3 linked regions of the Homo sapiens genome follow. The protein of the gene in region 1 interacts with the protein of each later gene in a pairwise test. Each region holds a gene or a part of one and is shown on either strand. Other genes may lie near its edges.

Region 1 (7,911 bases):
GGCTCAGGTGCATTGAGGGGAGGGGGTTGAACATCCCGTTGAGTAAAGGGTTAAGTCAGCATCAACCAGTGATATTTTTAAAGTGTTCATCAGAGCTTGTCTCTCGCCTGCTTAAAACACTCCAGGCCTTGGCCGGGCGCAGTGGCTCACGTCTGTAATCCCAGCACTTTGGGAGGCCAAAGCAGGCAGATCACGCGGTCAGGAGATCGAGACCATCCTGGCTAACACGGTGAAACTCTATCTCTACTAAAAATACAAAAAATTACCCAGGCGTGGTGGCGGGTGCCGGTAGTCCCAGCTACTCTTTGAGGCTGAGGCAGGAGAATGGCGTGAACCCGGGAGGCAGAGCTTGCAGTGAGCTGAGATCACGCCACTGCACTCCAGCCTGGGCGACAAAGCGAGACTCCGTCTCAAAAAAAAAAAACACTCCAAGCCTTAAAATAAAATGTTAGCCCTTCTCCATCATTGTGGTAGGCTGTATAATTGCCACTAAAAGATGTATCAGTGGCTCATGCACTTTGGGAGGTCAAGGCAGGAGGATTGCTTGAGCTCAAGTTCGAGACCAGCCTGGGCATCATGGTGAAACCCAGTCTTTACAAAAAATTGGTGAGTCATGGTGGCTCAAGGACCTGTGGTCCCAGCTACTCAGGAGGCTGAGGCAGGAGGATTGCTTGAAACCTGGAGGCGGAGGTTGTAGTGAGCCAGGATGGCACCACTGCACTCCAGCCTGGGCAACAGAGTGAGACCCTGTCTCAAACAAACAAACAGAACAGATCCTAATTCTTGGAACCTGTCCATTTTACCTTATAAAGTAAAAAGGTCTTTACAGATTAAGTGACTAAATTAAGATTCTTTTTCTTTTTTTTTCCTTTTGAAACAGGGTCTTGCTCTGTCACCCAGGCTGGAGTGCAGAGGCAAAAACATGGTTCACTGTAACCTCAACCTCCTGGGGCTTAAGCAATCCTCCCACCTCAGCCTCCTAAGTAGCTGGAACCACAGGTGTGCACCGCCACGCCCGGCCAATTTTTTTTTTTTTTTTAGAGACAGGGGTATTTGCTGTGTTGCCCAGGCTGGTCTCAAACTCCTGAGCCAAACCCATCCTCCTGCCTTGGCCTCCCAAAGTGCTAGGTTTACAGGCATGAGCCACTGCGCCCAGCCTCAAATTAAGATTCTTTATTTGAGGAAAACTATTCTGGAGTATCTGGGTGGCCCTAACACAATCACAAGTGTCCTTATAAGAGAGGCAGAGAGAGATGTTATACATACAGAAAAGGAGGAGGCCATGTGACGTAGGAGGCAGAGACAGGGTTGATGCAGTCATAAGTTGAGGAATGCCAGCAGGCCCCACCAGGGTTGGAAGAACAAGGATGGGATTCTCCTCTAGACTCTGCAAAGGGAGCATGACCCTCAGGACACCTGATTTTGGCTCTTCCCAAATTTTGGAAGATTTTGGCTCAGTGAAACTGATTTCAGACTTCTGGCCTCCAGGACTACAGGAGAGTAAATTTCTGGGTTTTCTTTTCTTTTTTTTTTTTTGAGACCGTGTTTCACTCTTGTTGCCCAAGCTAGAGTGCAATGGCTCAATCTCAGCTAACTGCAACCTCCGCCTCCCGGGTTCAAGTGATTCTCCTGCCTCAGCCTCCTGAGTAGCTGGGATTACAGGCGTGTACTACCACGCCCAGCTATTTTTTTGTATTTTTAGTAGAAACAGGGTTTCGCCATGTTGGCCAGGCTGATCTGGAACTCCTGACCTCAGGTGATCCACCTGCCAAAGTGCTGGGATTACAGCCGTGAGCCACCGTGCCTGGCCAAATTTCTGTTGTTTTAAGTCACCAAGTTAGAGCAGCCACAGGGCACTAATACAGTCCTCTAAATAGCCTGTGTGATCCGGCCCTGGCCCGTGTTGCCAATCTCACCCTTACTCACTTGGCTCTAGCCCTACCAAGGACCTTTTTCTGTTCTCAAAACTGGTCCAGCCTCAGGGCTCCTGCACTTATTAAATTCTTCCCCCAGAATTCCCAAGGCTAGCCCCTACTCATGATTTGGGTCTCTGCATAAATGTCACCTCTTCCCACAGGTCTTCCTTGACCACCTTAACCCAGAAATCACCTGTGGGTGACTCTGTGTCACATTCCCCCATTTTACTTTAGTCACAGCGTTTGTCACTATCTGAAAGTATTATTCCTCCCGGGTTTATTACTTCTCATCCCCACCAGACAGTGGGATCCAACGACTGAAATCCTATCATTTGTGGCAACACAGATGAACCTGGAGGACATCATGTGAGTGAAATAAGCCAGGCATAGAAAGACAAACACCACGTGGTCTCTCTCATATGTGGAATGAAATAAAGAAGTTGATCTCGGCCAGGTGCAGTGGCTCACGCCTGTAATCCCAGCACTTTGGGAGGCCAAGACAGGTGGATCACCTGATTTCAGGAGTTTGATACCAGCCTGGCCAACATGGTGAAACCTTGTCTCTACTAAAATTACAAAAAATTAGCTTAGCGTGCTGGCGGGCGCCTGTAATCCGAGCTACTCAGGCAAGAGAATTGCTTGAACCTGGGAGGCGGAGGTTGCAGTGAGCCGAGGTCGCGCCATTGCACTCCAGACTGGGCAACAAGAGCAAAACGCCATCTCAAATAAATAAATAAATAAATTGATCTCATAGTAGAGTAGAATAGTGGTTACAGGAGGCTGGGGTGTAGTGGGAGGATACAAAGAGGTTGGTTAACAGGTACAAAGTTACAGTTAGGGCTGGGCATGGTGGCTCACACCTGTAATTCCAGCACTTTGAAAGGCCAAGGCGGGTGGATCGCTTGAGGCCAGGAGTGCGAAACCAGTCTGGGCAACATGGAGAGACCCCATCTCTACAAAAAAATTTAAAAAAATTAGTCAGGGCTGGGCCCAGTGGCTGATGCCTGTAATCCCAGCCCTTTGGGAGGCCAAGGTGGGCGGATCACAAGACCAGCCTGGCCAACATGGTGAAACCCAGTCTCTATTACAGATACAAAAAATTAGCTGGGCATGGTGGCTCGAGCCTGTAATTCCAGCAAGACTCCATCTCAAAAAAAAAAAAAAATTAGTTGGGCATGGTGGCGTGCACCTGTAGTCCTAGCTACTAGGGAGGCTGAGGTGAGAAGATCACTTGAGCCTAGGGGTTGGAGGCTGCAGTAGGCTATGATCATGCCACTGCCCTCCAGCCTGGGTGACAGAGTGGGACCTCGCCTCAAAATAAATAAAAGTAAAAAGAAAAAAATACCAATATTGTACATTTCTTTTCTTTTTTTGTTTTTGTTTTTAGATGGAGTCTGGCTCTGTCACCCAGGCTGGAGTGCAGTGGCATGATTTCAGCTCACTGCAACCTCTGCCTCCCTGGGTTCGAGTGATTCTCCTGTCTCAGCCTCCTGTGTAGCTGGGACTACAGGCACCCACCATCATGCCTGGCTAATTTTTTTGTATTTTTGTAGAGACAGGGTTTTGCCATGTTGACCAGGCTGGTCTCAAACTCATGACCTCTGGTGATCTGCCTGCCTTGGCCTCCCAAAGTGCTGGGATTATAGGCGTGAGCCACAGCGCCTGGCCCTAATATTGTATATTTCAAAATATGGTAGCTAGAAGTGGGGATTTTGAATGTTCTCACCCCAAAGAAGCCATAAATGTATGAGGTGATGGATATGCTAAGTACCTTGATTTGATTTTTTTACACAACGTACACAGGTACCAAAACATCACATGGTACCCCATATTTAGGTACAATTATAGGTTGCCGAAAAAGTAATTGCGGTTTTTGCTATACTTTTATATGCAAAAACCGTATAACTTTTGCACCAACCTAATATTACATGTCAGTTAAAAACAATTTTTTAAGTGGCTCTCTTTTTAAGTGGGTATTTGGGAAAAAAAAAATGTGGGAGCCAAGAAGGCCTTGTCTACTTCGTTTCCTGCTGTATCCACAGGGCCTGGCATGTAGTAGGTGTTCAGCAAACATTGGTTGATGAATGCATGATGACCTATCTGTGCAAACCTCTAGGCTCAAGAGGTGTGTGTGTGTGTGTAAGTATTTTAGGGTGCATGTGTGGCAATGAAACTGTATATGACCTCCCATCTTCTGAGTGACCCCTCCTCCCTCACGCTGTCAGGAGCTTTCTGGGGAATATTTCATTTATTCCCTACAACGCTCTGTGAGGCAGGTTTCCTTCGTATCTATATGACAGACGAGGAAACTGAGGCTCCGCGATCATCTAAGTTATATAAAATATGTTCAGAAGTGAAAACAGCATTAATAGGCAGAAAAGGACCTCCCCCTTCTACCGCTTACCCACCGCTTACCCAGACCCTCCCCTTCCCCGCGCTGGGTCTCCCAGGATTCTTCTTTACTTTCTTTTCTATAAAATACAGACGGGGGGAGGGGGGGCGTCTCACTGTGTTACCCAGGCTGGTCTCGAACTCTTGGCCTGAAATTATCCTTTCACCTTAGCCTCCCAAAGTGCTGCGATCAGAGGCAGGAGCCACCGCATCCAGCCTTCTCCCGGGACTCTTCAAGAGTCGCTGCGCCGGGGCCTAGGCCGAGGGTGCACAGCGCGTAGAAAGCGCCTGGGAGAGCGGTGTCCCCCGCGAGCTACCACAAGTTTATCCCTAGGCGCGGAAGCTACCACGGCCTGGGCGAGAGCCGGGAAATTCCCAGCGGGCGGCTTGCCCCGGGGGAGGCCGGCGAAGCGGTCTAGGCTGGTGCTGGCGGAGCCGATTCACGGACCCGGGGTTGTTTACTGGTCCGGGGAGTGGACGCGGCTGCCCACGAACCGGTCGCGGCTGGGGCGGCGGCGGCGAGCAAAGGGTTAAGGGGGCGGCCCCGGCGGCGGGGGCGGAGCCGGGATCTCGGCCGCACCTGGCGCCCCAGGCTCCCAGCCCCGACGCCTCCTGCAGCGCCTGGAGCCACACAGGGATCCGGAGCCTGGGGGAAAAGCGGCGCGGGAGCCGGCACCCACCGCTGGAGGGGCGGCGACGGCGGCCGTAGCGACCTCGGGAGGCAAGCGGAGCCGCCATGGCCGAGTTCCCGTCGAAAGTTAGCACGCGGACCAGCAGTCCTGCGCAGGGCGCCGAAGCCTCGGTGTCGGCGCTGCGCCCGGACCTGGGCTTCGTGCGCTCCCGCCTCGGGGCGCTCATGCTGCTGCAGCTGGTGAGAGCACGCGCGGGCCCACGGGGTTGGCCGGGGGCTCCCGGTCCGGCCAGGATGGGTGAGGGACTCCGGCGCTGCGTTCATTTTTCGCGAACCTTGCGCTCCCCACCCGGGCTCACACTGTCACCGACGCGCTGCGCGTACCCCTAGGGCGCTTCCCGCACGGACGCCCCCAAGATCGCCCTGCATCCCTCTCACCACGACACTACCCCGTGGCCGTCGCTGCGAGCGTGAGCACCCTGCACCGTGTACAGAGTGCCCACTGCCCGTGCCCCATCGTGCCCCCTCCAAGGTGGTTACCAGCGGCCACAGAAGCCCCCACCGGAGCCACAGTCACTGCGCACAACCCGCCAACCCTTCCCAGCCCTCCCTTCCCTCCTCTCTCTTTTTCACCCCTCTTTCTGCCCGGACAGTGCCCCCAGCCCTCTAGGGAACCCAGTCTGAGGCAAAGTCCACTCTCTGACCACCTTCTGTCCCGCTCCCAGCGGCTCCGGGTGGCCGCACCCATGAACATTCCTCATCTAATCTAGAGGGCACATCCGACTCCCCAACACGCACACTCAGGCACTACCCTGTGGGCGCCCGCGCGGGAGCCGGGCTCTTCTAGCTTTCTCTGGGTGACCCGCCAGGTTTCAGCCGGTTTAGCCAGCCCCACGGGACCGAGATATCGCTGGAGGGAGGGGTTTGTGGGTAGCCAGGGGCAAGACTCCTACTCTCTCCCAGACCCCTGTACAGACCCCAACTGAGGCGGACCCATGGGAACATCCTCCACTCCCACACCAGCCACAGGCCCGGATGTTAGCTTCTTCCTCTGCCACCCTTTCGTGAGGGTCTGGAAGCTGGGTGGGTGCCCTGGGTGGGTGAGGGCCTGATACATTTTCAGAGGACTCAGGTGGAATTGGAGTTGGGCCAGGACCTGTATTTCTTAGCAATCCAGCGAGTGGACATTTCCCATTGTCTCCTATTGCTGGGTGCTAGCGCTGCTGCGAGGCCCAAGCTAGAGGGCAGGGTGGTTGCTTTGGTGCCAGACCCTGGGCTGAGGTCCAGTCTCCCTTCCCTGACCTCTCCAGGTGCGGGCCCACCTCTACCTGGGTCAGTGCTATCTCATTTCAGGATTTCTCAGATCTCTGTGGGCCCCCTCCCCAACCTCTGAATCTCCTGGCGGGTTTGTTTAAAATTTAGATTATTGGACTCCACCCCCGGAAAAAAATGTGCAATCGGAATTTGAATCTCAGGAAGTACAGCCAGAAATTCATTTTTAACAGTTCTCCCAGAGTTTTTTGTTTGTTTCTCTTTTGGGGGGTGGGGGAGAAGGGGAGAAGATTCTGTCTTCTGAGGGAAGAGGTCTAGTTCCTGGAATCATTTAATTCTGCAGATGGGGAGAGCCACTGACCCCGCCACCGCTAGAATGCTCTGCTCTGGGCTGGTTGTGAGGGGCACAGCCATGAGCAGCTGCCTGGCTGCCCAGGGGAGAGCCAGGTGGGTGTGAGAAGTGGTGCGAAAGGGCAGAGGAGAAGGAGAGCAATTTCACGACCAGGAAGGCTTGTTGGAGGAGGTGGTTTTTGAGCAGAGACTTCACTGAAATCTGAGGCAGACGCAGGGAAAGGGTGTTCCAAGGGCAGGGAACAGTGTGAGCCAAGATGTGGTGATGAGAAAGTTGAATTAATTTGCAGGGAGTAGCCAACAGGTTGGTGGTGCTGGAGTTGAAGCACTTGTTTCTGGTGTGGACAGAAGCCAAGGGCCTTGTGTAACTTCTGCGAGCTACAGGGTCTAGGTTCTGTTGGTGGCCTTAAGAGGTTTTGGAACAGAAGAGGGATCTTGCTGGGTGGAGGATGATGACTGGCAAGATCCCTGTGAGGGATCCCTCAGCATCCCTGGTGAGGTGGATCCTGAGGCTGGCCCCTGATGGACAGGAGGATTGCTTGTGGCCAGAAGTTCAAGACCAGCCTGGGCAACATATTGAGACCCTGTCTCTACAAAAAAAAGGAAAAAAAAAATAGCCAGGCATGGTGGTATGCGCCTGTGGTCTCAGCTACTTGGGAGGCTGAGGTAGGAGGACCCCTTGTGCCTGGGAGTTTGAGGCTACAGTGACTTTGATCGCACCACTGCACTCCAGCCTGGGTGACAGAATGAGACTTTGTCTCAAACAGACAAACACACACACAAAAAAAAAAAAAGAAAAGAAAAAAGAAAGAGACTAGCAATAGGGGCAATAGGGGGAATGGAAGGCATTGGAGTAAGAGGAGGATGTTGCTGCTGTGGGCCGCAAGGGTCTTGGTAGCTTCCTCTAGGGCAGGCTTGTGTTCCTGATTGGGGTTGGGATGGGTGGGGGCATCCCCTGTGGCCTCAGCAATCCAGCCCTGCGCATCTGGGTCCCATTACACAGACGTAGACATTGAGGTCTAGTTAGAAGGACTTGCCAGGAGTCCTGTAATAGAGCTTGGCACTTGGGTCTCTTGACTCTCAGGGACTGGGTGTGAGGGAAGTGGGCTCCTTTTGCTCCCTACCTGCAGTGCCTTTGAGGGGATGAGGGTCTTCCATCAGAGTTCTGAAAATGACCTGCACATTTTAGTGCCTTAGAAATCTGCTTGTTGGGGCCAGGTGTGGTGGCTCACGCCTGTAATCCCAGCACTTTGGGAGGCCGAGGTGGGCAGATCACGAGGTCAGGAGACGGAGACCATCCCGGCTAACAGGGTGAAACCCCATCTCTACTAAAAATACAACAAAATTAGC
Region 2 (7,024 bases), on another chromosome or scaffold:
AATAATACCTCTCAAGAAGACAGATACTTGGGTTCTAGAGGATCCACTCACAATCAACAAGTCTCGATTTCCATAGTCCTTAGATCCCTCAAATATAAATTAGGAAAATTATTTTACCTGCCTGAAGTTGAGACCAAACTAAATAATCTCTTGAATAGTATGATTCTATAAGTGACTGAAAGTGCAATCTTGCTTCTGAAATTTGAGCTACTGTCAAAAGCGCTCAGCAACATTGTGAACTGAGCATATGGCCTTAACTCCAGGGTGCATGGGTAGGCTGGGGTAAAGAAAAGACAGAAAAATTAAAAGCCCAGGCCCGTGCCACTTATGGGAGTGGGGCCTGAGTTTATGCAACCCATGCAGAATGAAAATTCCAAGGTGAAAAAATAGTATGAACTCAAATATCTATAAGAATTAATGAACACTAAAGATAATACTTCAAGTATTAGGAAAAAGGGATTATTCCCCTGTTGGGGAAACATGTTGGGACAACTAGATAACCTTCTGTTAAAAAACACAACCCCTTGGGAGGCCAAGGCGGGTAGATCACGAGGTCAGGAGTTTGAGACCAACCTGGCCAAGATGGTGAAACCCTGTCTCTTATACTAAAAATATAAAAATTAGCCGGGCACGGTGGTGGGCGCCTGTAATCCCGGTTACTCAAGAGGCTGAGGCAGGAGAATCGCTTGAACCCGGGATACGCAGGTTGCAGTGAGCCGAGATGGCGCCACTGCACTCTAGCCTGGGTGACAGAGCAAGATTCCTTCTCAAAAACAAACAAACACCCACCACCCCACCAAATTTGGACTCTAATTTCACATCTTAAAGCAAAATCAATTTCAAATGGAACTAAAAAACTGAGACCACAGAAGTACTAAAAAAACTACAGATTTTTAAAAACAATTTTAAGTGCATAAAGTCTTTAAATATAATACATAACTTAGCAGCTATAAAAGAAAAGATAAATTTGAATACATAAAACCAAAACTTTGTGTGGTTCAAAAAAACACCATAAATAAGTAAAAGGACAAACTAGAAAAAATATTTGCGGCAAAGGCTGATTTACTTTATAAAGAACACCTAAAATCTGTACGATCAATATGATGATTGAAAAACTGCAGCAGGGCTGGGCGCAGTGGCTCATGCCTGTAATCTCAGCACTTTGGGAGGCTGAGGTGGGCGGATTGCCCGAGGTCAGGAGTTCGAGACCAGACTGACCAACATGGAGAAACCCCGTCTCTACTAAAAATACAAAATTAGCTGGGTGTCGTGGCGCATGCCTGCAATCCCAGCTACTCGGGAGGCTGAGGCAGGAGAATCGCTTGAACCCAGCAGGCAGAGGTTGCAGTGAGCCGAGATTGCATCATTGCACTCCAGCCTGGGCAACAAGAGTGAAACTCTGTCTCAAAAAAAAAAAAAGAGAAAAACTGTGGCAAAGGATATATGAATAAACAATTTGTAGAAAAGGCATCATAAATGACTCAACTTTTTAAAAAGAAGTCCAACCTCATTAAGTAAATGAGAAATGTAAATTTAAACAAATATTGAGATACCATTTTAACCTCTCAAGAGTGACAAAGACCAAGAAGCTTAATACCACGTTTTTGGCAAGAAGTGAGAAACAGGCATTTTCATCAAGTGTAAATTGGTCCAACCTCTCTGAAGGGCAGTTTAGAAACAAGAATCCAAATTAAAAATATCCATACCCCAAGCCTCGGTAATTTTATTTCCAGGAATTTACTTTATAATCATAATTTTACACACATGTGTAAAATGACATGTACATATTTATTGCAGCATCATGCAATAACAGGAGACTGAAAACAAATGTTAACAGTGGACTGTTAAATTATGACTTATTCATAAAATAGAATATTATGCATGTATTCAAAAGAATAAGATGGCTCTCTATACTGATGTCAAAGGCTCTTGTGATATTAAAATATTGTGAAGGGTATGCATAGTATACTATAATTAGTGTGGGGGGAAAGGAAGATATCCACATGCTTGTACTTGCACCCAAAATAGCTCTAGAACAATACGTAGACTGGTGCTTTGCTGCTATGGAAGGGAACATGGTGGCTGGGACTAGTTGTGGGAAGTAGACTTATTTTTCACTGTATATCCTTTTGAATTTTCTATTTTGAGCATGTATTACTTAATTTAAAAAATCATTGTTTTAACTTACGTGAGGCCCTATTTTGCAACATACCCAAAGCACTTTACCTCTTTCACAACTTAGGGCTCATGGAATTTTACAGGAAATACTCCAAAATTAAAAAAAGTAACTACTGAAGATAATAAGTTCACAATAAAAAATATAAACTACATGAAGAAACAAACCATCATGGAGGAGTGGGCACATATAACAGATACAGAAGCAGATTAAAGAACTAAAGTAAATTTGCTTAAAATTATTAAGAAATGGTACAAAAGGAAAGATTAAGAGACATTAAGAATAGAATGAAAACCTAATGTATATCTATTAACAGTTCCAGAGGAAGGAACAGAGATAATGGAAGAGGCAATAAGTAACAGCAAATTTTCTGGGAAAAAAAAAAAAAAAAAAAAAAGGACAATATATCCACAGACTTGAGTAGAGTTTGGTACATGGTAAATAAAATCAAATCCATACCTGGACAAATCCTAGTAAAATAGCAAAACCCCAAAGACAAAAAGATCTCAACTACAACCAAAAGGAAGAAAAAGATTAATAAAAGTAAAGAGAAACTACAAGCCGACTCCTCACCAACAAGTGGAAGACAGTGGCATAACGCTACTCAAGAGTTGAGGTATAATAAGGTCAATTTACATTTTTTTTTGAGACAGGGTCTTGCTCTGTCACCCAGGTTGAGTGCAGTGGTGTTATCAAGGCTCATTGATCTTCTGGGCTCAAGCGATCTTAATACCTCAGACTCTTGAGTAGCTGGGGCCACAGGTGCATGTCACTATGCCTAGCTAATTTTTTATATTTTTGTAAGAGACAGAGTCTCGCCATATTGCCCAGGCTAGTCTTGAACTGCTGGGCTCAAGCAGTCCTCCCACCTTGGTCTCCCAAAAATGGTAGGATTATAGGCATGAGCCACTGCGCCTGGCCCAATCTACAATTTTATATTCTAAACCCAAACTATTATTCCTGAGTGAGGAAAAATAAAAAATTTTTTCCTGCCAGTGAAAAACTATAGGACACACCTCACTAAAATAAAAAGTGAACCCCAAAGAAATGAGATGCAAGAAACAACAGTGAATTAAAAAAATGATAACCATGTTAGTAAATTTAAACAAGGACTATATTAAAAAGATAATAATTTCATCAATTTTGGGGTGGAGTTTGAAAAAACAAAGTGAAGCTAAAGTCTAATAGTGATACTGTGGAAAACAGGATGGGGGAGGAATCAGAGTTAAAGCTTTCTAACCAGGGCCTCAACATATGACTATGTACAACGCAGGGGATACTATCCATATTTGTAGTCATGGCAGTTTTGCTTATTTATTAAGAAATAATCTGTCAAATGTCAGTAAAGTATCTTAAAGAGGCAGCTTTTTCAAATTGACACTAAAATGATGTTTGGCTAAAATTCTTATATTGTTCAGAAGCATAGGATAGTCATCTATAGCAAAAACTTAAGGAAATCACTAAAAGGATAGAAATAGAATACATCCAAATCAGTAGAGGAGAGAAAATGGAAGAAATAAAAAAATCAATCAGAGAAGGAAAAATAGTGGGAAAAGAGGCAAAGAAAAGTAAGGTGAAGAGAAATCACAAAATAAGATGATAGAAATAAACCTAAATATACCCGTAATCACAAAACATATACACTAATTAAGCTATTAAAGGACATAGTGCTAATATTAAATGAAAAAATCCAGCTATATGTCATTAATGTGAGAAAAATAAAACAACACAGATTGACTAAAAGGGATGGAAAATGAAATATTGTGTTAATACTAATCAGATAAAGGCTGAAGTAAAATCTGAAAATCAACAGTGTTAAAGAGGTTTCTAGTATGATCAGTTCTAGATCTACTGCTAGATGGCTTTGCTCGGTATAGAAAGCATAGTAACAATCTCACTTCAGAACATTCTCATACCCAATCTTTGTATGGCTGGCTCTGTTAGGTTTTTGCTTAAATGTCGAGCCCTTTTTCTCGAGAATCTAACATAAAAAAGGTAACCTTGCTTAGCCACTTAATCTAAATAAAGTCCTTTGTTACCCTCTATTCCCATTCTATTAATTTCTTTTATAGCATATTACAGATTATAATTACATACTGAAATCCTTGTTTACTGCCTCTCTTCCTTAATAGACTATTAACTCCATGAGGATAGGAACACATCTGTTTTGAAGACTCAGTTAACTCCATTTCTCATCTCTTAAGCTTTTACTGTAATGAAATCCAGGGAAGTCTTCCTCAGTATTTAAAAATGGAGCTGAAATCCTATTATTAAAGATCCTGAGACTGGATATAGGCTCCAAAAGAATACAGGAGTTATACAGTCATGTCTGTCTTGGGTGCACAGGGAAAGGAGTGGTCTATGTCAGAGTGTTGAAAAAACAATTAAAAGAACTTGAATGGCTAATTCCAGATGTTATTAAATCTACTCCTTTCTTCCACCCTGAATAACAGCTTCTGGTTTCAAGCTATCCTTTTATAATATGCTTTAGGATTTAACACAAATACGATTCCCTCAAAGATTAAAAACAACGGGATGATGTTGAATTCAGAGCCAACTAAGTAGTTATAATAGAAATAACTAGTAGAAATTTGAGCAGAATATAAAAAATCATCAGAAAACCTAGCTAATCCTTTTATCTTACTGGTAGGTAATAGATGCATATGGGCATTAGCCCAAACAACAAAGCCAGTTGGCTTCAAAGCAAGAAGCTGGGATGAGAGGTGGGCAGTGGCAACTTTAGGACATCCATGAAGAAATAGGTAAGATTGGGTCCAGTTTTTATGATGCAACTCTGCAAACACAGAGTTTCCAATTCTGCAAACTAAAGTGTTAAATAAAAGTGAACAAATTGAAGATAAAGTTTAAAATGGAGGAAAAACACTTCAAGGTACATGTGTTCTTTTCCCCAACCTCCTAAATATTAGGCATCTCATGGGGTTCTTCTTACGTGACTTTTTTCTTTCAGTGGAATTTAAAAGGTAAGTTGGAAAAAATATAGCTTTGGTATATGTCAAAGAATACTCCACCTGGAATAAGGGAGCAGCAGTATTGCAAGGTTCAACAACGCAAAATAAACTATCAAAAAGTCAAGTGTATAATTTTTTGCCATTCCAAAAAAATAAAAGCACTGTTTTGGTAAAGTTCCATTGCAGTAATATTAAATAAAATTGTTAAAAATTATACTAGCTGTTTGAGTCTTCAAAACTTATGATTCTGTAAACATGTGAAACTGAATAGACTATGTTGTAATACAATGGGAAGGATTGAAGCTATGAAAATCTGGATTTAATTTTTAGTGTTGCCACCTACTAGATATGTGGCTTTGGGCAATCTCATAGGGCTGTTTGAAAATTAGCGATACTAAGCTCAATAAATGGAGTTTCCTCCTTCTCCTCCTCTGACCTTTAGAATCAGTGTTGTTTTCAACAACTCTCTGGGAAGACAGAAATACTCTAAGAGGTGCCTTGTTAGTGCAGTAGGTGGCACGCCAGTCTCACAATATGAAAATATACAAAGTGCACTGTCCAAAATGGTAGCCATGGTGGGCTCAGCACTTTATATGTGGCTAGTGTTACTAAGGAACTCAATTTTTAATTATATCTAATTTTAATTAATTTACTTTTAATTAGCCACCTGGGGCCACCATTTTGGGCAGTATAACATAAAGCCATAAAAGCATTTTTTTTTTTTTTTTGAGACAGAGTCTCGTTCTGTCATCCAGGCTGGAGTGCAATGGCGAGATCTCAGCTCACTGCAACCTCCACCTCCTAGGTTCAAGTGATTCTCTTGCCTCAGCCTCCCCAGTAGCTGGGATTACAGGCACCCACCATCAAGCTCAGCTAATTTTTTTTTGTATTTTTGTAGAAACAGGGTTTGGCCATGTTGGCCAGGCTGGTCCCGAACTCCTGACCTCAGGTGATCTGCCCGCCTTGGTCTCTCAAAGTGCTGGGATTAAGGCATGAGCCACCGTGCCTGGCCTTTATTTTTTTATTTTTATTTTTTTTTTTTTAGTAGAGATGGGGTTTCACCATGTTGGACAGTCTGGTCTCAAACTCCTGACCTCAAGTGATCCGCTTGCCTCAGCCTCCCAAAGTGCTGGGATTACACGCGTGAGCCACCGTGCCTGGCCGAAAGGCATGTTTTTTTTGAGGCTTTAAATCCTTGGATTTATGGGAACCAGGGAAGAGTATAAAGAAAAACAACAGTAAGATTCTCTACAAGTTTATCACAGGATGCAGTTTACTAGAAATAGTATAGATAAGCTGTGTGGTAATATCCATCTGGATTTATTAGACATACATGTAATCCAAGCCAATTTACCTAAAATACCTAGACCTCAGACTCCCCACCTGTAGAGCAGGAATACTTACCAACTTCACTGAGGAATTATGGAGATAAAAAAATTAATGGATCTGATATTGTGGGTGCTTAACGAATCTGGTTTTCTTTCTCCTCCTGTATTCAGTTTTTTACATGACCAAACTTTCCTCACCTGCTGGCCAAGTGCCTGATCTGTTACTAAATTTAATATTGGCAAATACAGTTAATGCCAACTGTTTGCCAAAATGTGTATACTCCACCAAATTACACTGTCAATATTTAATTAAGAGCCTGAACTTTAAAAATGTATGACTAAAAATAAACACATGTTTAGCATTATGGAAAAATCTCACAAAATTTAATCCTAAAACCATTATTGTGAAATTAGGGTAGATATTGGCTAGGCATAGAAACTAACAATTACTGCTTCTGAATTATTCTGCTACAAAACTGCTTAATTTATGAGGATGAAAATAAAAATTAAAAGCAAAACTGAACTTGTATCTGTTTTATAGCCAGAAATTT
Region 3 (7,322 bases), on another chromosome or scaffold:
ATGGCGGTGGGGGTGGGAGGCTGGAGGGGAGGAAATAGGAAGATATACATCAAAGGACACAAAGCAGTAGATATATGGATTAACAAGTGAGATATCTAATGTACAAGAGGACTATAGGCAATAAAGTTGCATGGTATTAGGGACTTTTGTAAATAAGATTTTAGCTGCCTCTGGTCACACACACACAAAAGTATGTGAGATGACAGATATATTAATCTGCTTCACCATAGTAATCATTTTACTATATGTATGCCATAACATCATGTTATGAACCTCAAATATACACAATGAAATTTATTTAAAAAGAACCTGAACAAAAAACCCACAAAAACATTGAGTAAAATATATATTAAATATAACTAACCTCATGCCTATTTCTTGATCACATGCTCTGCACATGTGTGAGAAATTAAATGCTTACTGCTGTAAAAAAAAAAGTTCTAATATTTTCTTTTGGTACTTAAATGGATCATCTTTTAGCAGGCCTCATTTTGGTTATTACTGAGCTATACAACTCTCATTTAATATACATAAGCTCCCTTAAACTGTTTCCTACTAGTAAATTTTTAGAGAAATTTATTGTGTAATCCTCATGAAGAGTATGAGTGTCTGCAGTGGAGAATCTACAAAAAATACAAAGAGTCACTAATTGGCCAATTCTTTTGTGCACCCTAAAAAAAGCACTTGACTTTGGTGTTTCTATGGTGAGTAAAAAAGTATGTTTTAGGAATGCAACTTTCAGATTATCTAACTTGTTAAAGGAACAGAAAGGAAGTGTTAACTGATTGTTTTGTTCTTTACATGACCTCTCTTGAGTATCTATTATCTGGTCTGGCTTTTAAAAAGTTTATTATTGAAAAGATGATATAACACCATAAAAATGTTTTAAAGTAAACAAAATCACCTATAATCCCACCACCCAAATATAACCTTTCTACATATTAATTTCTAGCCCCCACACAATCTATACACAGCATACCTTAATAATTTATGGCTAATTCCTTCTCACTTCTCTCTTTACCTCAAACTTCAAAAATGTGACTACTTTTCTGTGTTGTGACCTCACTAATATGGGACTAAGCATTAAGTCAAAGTGTACATACAAACTTTTGAAAACTAGCAAACTTCCTCTACTGTTTATAGGACATTTTCTCCCTGGATTCCAGCCACAAGAGCTGTTGGTTTTGCTGATGCAAGCCACCTTGGGTAAAATCAGTGGCTTATCCAAGACAAAGCAACTGATGCTATTCAATTGATTTATCCTATGTATCTTTGGGTGTTACTGAGCAGAGATTTGTTAGAAGTGAGGAATGAGAAAGGCTGGAATTAAAGTTGTCCTCACACAAAGGAAAAAGTTCAGGATGAACCTTAATCTGCCTCCATTTATAACACCACCTAGTTTTCCCACTTCATACAAACTTCTGCAGCCAACATTGAGCAGACAGAGCCTACCACATTCCCTTTTGTAGCAAGTAAGACAACAGGAATTCTTTCTCCCACAGTCAAGATTTCACTGCAAATTCCATTAGGAAACCAGAATCAGTCTAGAAGGACTATGCTGTAAGTGTATCTAATAAAAATATGTTGGTATTCTCATAAATGAATAATTAAAAAAAAACCCACATTGAGGCTGGATAAAGAAAATGCGGTACATATACACCATGGAACACTATGCAGCCATAAAAAAGAATGAGATCATGTCCTTTGCAGCAACATGACTGGAGCTGGAAGCCATTATTCTAAGCAAATTAAGACAGGAAAAGAAAACCAAATACTGCACGTTCTCATAAGTGGGAACTAAACAACAAGAACAGATGGACACTAGGAGAGGAACAACAGACAGTGCGGTCTACTTGAGGGTGGAGGCTGGGAGGAGGGAGAGAATCAGAAAAAACGCCTATCGGGTACTATGCTTATTACCTGGGTGACAAAATTACCTGTACGCCAAGCCCCCGTGACATGCAGTTTACCTATATAACAAACCTGCGCATGTACTCATGAACCTAAAATAAAAGTTAAAAAAAAAAAAAAAAAACTCACAATGACCCTGTCGGAAAGAGAAGGCATCACAGAGCTCCAAAGATCGTGGGCTTTGGAGTCAGTGAGCTTGGTCAAACGTTAGCTTCAATTACATACTAACTTTGTCGCCTAATTCTGTAATCACTCACCCTCAGTTTCAAGTCACTTACCCTCAACTGCATCCTCTTCAAAATTGGGAAATCAAGCAGTTAGAGAAATTAAGAATTCTGACAATGTATGTAAAGCACGTGCACTGAGCCTGGCATACAGTAGGTCTTAACGAATGATAGCTAACTCCCTCACCACTCCCTTGCCTACTGGGGTGGGCCAGAACCACCTGCTCTCTCATACATTCCTTCAACTCAGTCACCAGCCTCTATCTTACTGATTCCCCAAGTGAAGCAATCTCACACCAGGGGACTATTCCCTTCTACTCCTTCATTCATACAGCAAACATTTATTAAGCCCCGACTATGCAGGCCCCCTAGGGAACACGGAGATGAAGGAGACTGCATTCCTGTCCTCAGAAGGCTGACCCTGCGGTAATGAAAGAGACTGCAATATAGACACAGCGAGAGAAAGTGCTAGGATAGGAGCATGAGCTGAAGGCCCACTGACCTATTCCCCATGACCCCGGATCCCTTGTTCCCGAGCGAAAGTTCGGGGCCGGGAGTTTAGACGTCTCAGGCTCCAACCTGCTTTCCCCGCCCCCTTCCCTGAGGCCAGGTCCCCGGGGTCCAGACCTCACGCCCACCCATTCAGCTAGGGCCTTCCCTCAAGCCCTGCTCCAGGCTGGGGCCAGTCCGCCTCGCGGTCCAGGCCCCGCTCAGGGCTACCTGAACTCAGGAGGCTGCAGTGCGTTCAGCGCCGCCTTATCCGGGCGCTCCATGGTGTAGCCGTGCCGGCACAGGCGCTCGGCGGCGGAGCTGGGCTCGGCGGCCGCGCTCAGTAAGCTCCGCGAGGGAACGGCCGAGGCGGTTCGCACCGGAAGTAGCGGTTCGCGCCGGAAGTGCCCGTTCGCGCCGGAAGTGCCCGTTCGCGCCGGGCGGCGGGCCACAGTACGCAGGCGCGGCGCGGCGCGGCGCGCCGCAGCGACGCAGGGCTGTTGCCGGCGCGGGGGCGGGCGCTCACATGACTTACCGGCGGTGGCTCCGCGGCGTGCGCCCTGCCAGGAGGGGCCTGTGCTCGAGGAGCAGGCCTGGCGAGTAGCCCAGCCACTCCACGTTGAGCCGGGACTTGCCGCGCAACATGGTCCTCCTGGGCGGGCGGCGGCTACGCCGCCCCCTGAACTCGCGTGAACACTGGTCCTCGTCTGCGTCTCGGTCGCTGAGCTGGGGGCCGCAAGGAGACCCGAGCATATGAGCCGCGAAGAGGGACTACCAGCCAGAGGGCTGTGGTGCTAGGCAACTGAGCGTATTCCGCCGACGACAACACAAAAAAGCAGTGCGCATTATTTCGCCACTACTTGAGCAAATAAATGCCTCATTAATTACTGCCCGCAGTGGTAGGAAGTCAAGCCCTTGGCAGCTGGGAGGAGTTAAAACACTCACCCGAGTCCGTAAAACTAGAGAATGTCAGAGTTCAAAGAGCTCTTGCTGAGAATGACTGTTCCAGACTCGATGCCAGTGACCCCCAACTTCCACTTAAAAGTTAAAAACATATTTTGCAGCTGCTCAGAAAGCCGCCAATGAGACAACAGGGACTCAAATAGTAAGAACAGATGGGCCTCCCGGGCCTGCGCAACCCGAGAGAGGTAAAAACGAAAGGGTGGGTAAGTCTGGAGTCAGGCTTGACAAAATTAAGTTGCCACTGGCTGCTAATAAGAGGACAGCCCTTAACATGGTCAGCGCCTGGAAAGGGCCGCTGACCACACAGCTATTTTCTGCACCACATGGATACAAAGACCACATCTGAAATCATGACTAAACCAGCAGCTTAGAGTGGTGGAAAGGGCAATGGACTGGGCAGCAGGAAGTCCAGGTTTTAGTTCAAACTGAATAATCCCCCTCTAGGGCTGACTGTGCTGGCTCACGCCTGTAATCTCAACACTTTGGGAAGCTGAGGCAGGAGGATTGCGTGAGGCCAGTAGTTCCAGAGCAGCTTGGGCAGCATAGCAAGACTCCGTCTCTAAAAAACAAACTGTAAAATATTTAATAAAAATAATAGTAATCTCTATCTGGGCCTCATCTAGACCTTTAGGTGAGTAAGAACCACCTAATGTAAGAACTTGGGGTACAAAGAGAATCTAGCTCTGGGGTAGGCAAACTGAGCCAGCCGACCTAATACATGGAGCCTACCACCTGTTTTTCTACAGCCCTGAGGTAAGAATGGTTTTTCCTTTTTAAATTGTTGAAAACGTCAAAAGAATAACATGACACGTGAAATTTATATGAAATTCAAATTTCAGCGTCTATTGATAAAATTTTATTGGAGCTCAGCCATTCTCATTTGTTTGTATTATCTACAACAGCAATGTTGAGTAGTTGTGACAGAGACGGTATGATCTGCAACGCCCAAAATGATCTGCAATGCCCAAAATTCTTACCATCTGACCCTTTTACAGAAGAGTTTGCTGACCCCTGCTCTAGCTAATCAGCCTGCAGTGAGGTCCTTCAATCCCTAGGGACCCATAAATGTAGTAATGGTGGTTCTGAAGGCAGTTTTTAATATTTTTAAAAACCTAATGAATCTATTTACTGTTAGGCATCCAAAGCTACTTAAAATATCACCGTTCTTTGATTTTTGACACTTACTATATCATGATGAGGTTATCCTAGTTATCCCATAAGAAAAGACTGTTCACAGATTATTATGAAAATAAGCCACAGTATACTTAATAGAATAAATCTTTTAAAACATAGAATGAACACAAGTGGGGGAACGGAATTGTGACTTATTGTTCCCCAATACCTAGAGTAGGGCCTGGTATATAGTAGGAACTAATAAATATTTGTTAAATAAATAAATTGGGTCCACAAAAGGAAAAAGAGCAAAATAGTTCTTGATGGTGAAAAAATTGGGAACCAGCTTGGCGTGGTGGCACATGCCTGTAATCCCAGCTACTCAGGAGGCTGAGGCAGAAAATCGCTTGAACTCAGGAGGCGGAGGTTGCAGTGAGCCAAGATCGTGCCACTGCACTGCACTCCAGCCTGGGTGACAGAGTAAGACTCTGTCCACCCCCCCCCAAAAAAACTGGGAACCACTGTTGTTGTAGTTTGCCGGAGCTGCCATAACAAATGCCACAAACTAAGTGGCTCCAACAACAGAAGTTAATCATCTCCCAGTTCAGGAGGTTAGAAGTCTGAGATGGAGATGTTGGCGAGGCTGGTTCCTTCTGAAGGTTGTGAAGGAAGGACTGTTCCAGGCCCCTCTTCTGTTTTCTGGTGGTTTGCTGACAATCTTTGGCATTTCTTGGCTTGTAGAAGCATCACCCTGATCTCTGCATTTTTCTTCAAACGGCCTTCTCCCTGCGTCTGTGTTTCTGTCCAAATTTTCCCTTTTTATAAGGACACCAGTCATAATGCATTAGGGGCCCACCCTACACCTGTATGAACTTAATTATTTACATCTGCAGCGACGCTGTTTCACTCTGGGGTACTGGGGGCTAGGATTTCAGCATATGAATTTGGGGATGGTGTGGGTGACCGGGCCAGCAATTCAACCCATAACAGTAGTCTAAACACTTCCTTGTACAGATGAGAAAACTGCGGCCCAGAGAGGGGACGGGACTTGTGGGAAGTCACACATTTATCTAGTGGGATGTAGCTTGACTCCTGACTCCCAGGCTGGCACTTTTACACTCCCACATTAACAGCCTAAGTTGCACTTGTGTGATAACTTAAACAGGAACCATTCATAAATGAGATTTGCTGTGGGAAAAACTTCTCATGTAATTTACATAGTAGTGTTTTTAAATATAAACAAAAGCTCTCATATCTCTTATTTATTTATTTATTTATTTATTTATTTATTTATTTATTTATTTCGAGACAGAGTCTCGCTCTTTCGCCCAGGCTGGAATGCAGTGGCGCGATCTCCGCTCACTGCAAGCTCTGCCTCCCGGGTTCACGCCATTCTCCTGCCTCAGCCTCCCGAGTAGCTGGGACTACAGGCGCCTGCCACCACGCCCGGCTAATTTTTTGTATTTTTTTTAATAGAGACGGGGGTTTCACCGTGTTAGCCAGGATGGTCTCGATCTCCTGACCTCGTGATCCGCCCGCCTCGGCCTCCCAAAGTGCTGGGATTACAGGCGTGAGCCACCACGCCCTGCCATATCTCTTTTTTATGCTGACTTATACACTCTACCAACATTTACTGTGAGCTTACTGAGGTAGACACAGAACTTTAAAAATAAACTCAGAATCTGTACTAGAAGGAAAGAATCTAGCCAGCAGTCAGCCCTCTCAACAGAGCCCTGAAACCTCCTACCTGCAGTGCTACAAAAGAATTAGAGGCAAGTGGAGCCCACACAGAGCCGTTGCCATGGGAATGAAATGGTGTGTTAGGGGGTGTGGCCACTACAGAGGAAACCATAATAGTGGTTTCCTACCACTGCTGCCCTAAAGCATGTGTCTTGTGCTTCATTTTACTGAGCATATTCACAGTCCCTACAATTTATACCATCCCCACTTCATAAGTGGAAAAACTGAGGCCAGGGAAAATTTCAGAGTCTGGTGAAGGCTTCCCAATGCCCCTTAAAGTCAGAAACTGATTCTCAAACTGAAAGAGCCCCAGTTTGGCACTTTAATTTTAGTTGAGAAAACTGACAGCTAAAGATGGGAAGTGATTTGCCCCAAATTCCCTAGGTCAGTGATAGAATTAGAGAATGTATAGTTCCTAATTCTGTCTCATGTTTTCTCCACCATATTGTTGTAAACTTCTGTACTACTTGTAAGACACGTTTTCTCCACCATATTGTTATAAACTTCTGTACTATTAACCCAGTGACGTGAAAAGTATACACCCAAAGACACGTTTTGCAACCCCAAATTGCTTTACTTACCCGAAAAAACTTCGTTTCTTGAAGTTTCCTTTTGGGTGGCTGGCTGTGGGATTGGATGGAACAACCATATTGAAACACCAACTGATACTTGCCAAGGCCTATACCTGAACAGCACGGTGTTTTTAAAACTAAGACATAAGGAAAATAGAAATAAGCTCCACTGTACAATCAACAAAACTCATATTAAAAAAGAGAGAGAGAAACTCTGGCTTCTTTGTAATGTAGGCTGTGATGTCTTAAAAAAAAAAATTGGTAAAATATGCCCCCTGGTGAAAAAGCATAGTTCCATTTATAGAAAAAA

Evidence for each region.
Region 2: the proteins of PLLP (region 1) and PGRMC2 interact in binary tests that used the Homo sapiens proteins (3 or more experiments, as listed by UniProt).
Region 3: the proteins of PLLP (region 1) and VMA21 interact in binary tests that used the Homo sapiens proteins (3 or more experiments, as listed by UniProt).

The regions. Positions count from the first base shown.
Region 1 is NC_000016.10:57,281,673-57,289,583, reverse strand, and holds the start of PLLP (plasmolipin), read left to right. Parts: upstream 1-4,911; 5' UTR 4,912-5,043; coding exon 5,044-5,178; intron 5,179-7,911. UniProt on the Homo sapiens protein: Main component of the myelin sheath that plays an important role in myelin membrane biogenesis and myelination. Plays an essential function in apical endocytosis. Regulates epithelial development through the regulation of apical endocytosis.
Region 2 is NC_000004.12:128,277,803-128,284,826, forward strand, and holds part of PGRMC2 (membrane-associated progesterone receptor component 2), read right to left. Parts: intron 1-7,024. UniProt on the Homo sapiens protein: Required for the maintenance of uterine histoarchitecture and normal female reproductive lifespan. May serve as a universal non-classical progesterone receptor in the uterus.
Region 3 is NC_000023.11:151,392,895-151,400,216, reverse strand, and holds the start of VMA21 (vacuolar ATPase assembly integral membrane protein VMA21), read right to left. Parts: upstream 3,012-7,322; 5' UTR 2,909-3,011; coding exon 2,856-2,908; intron 1-2,855. UniProt on the Homo sapiens protein: Required for the assembly of the V0 complex of the vacuolar ATPase (V-ATPase) in the endoplasmic reticulum.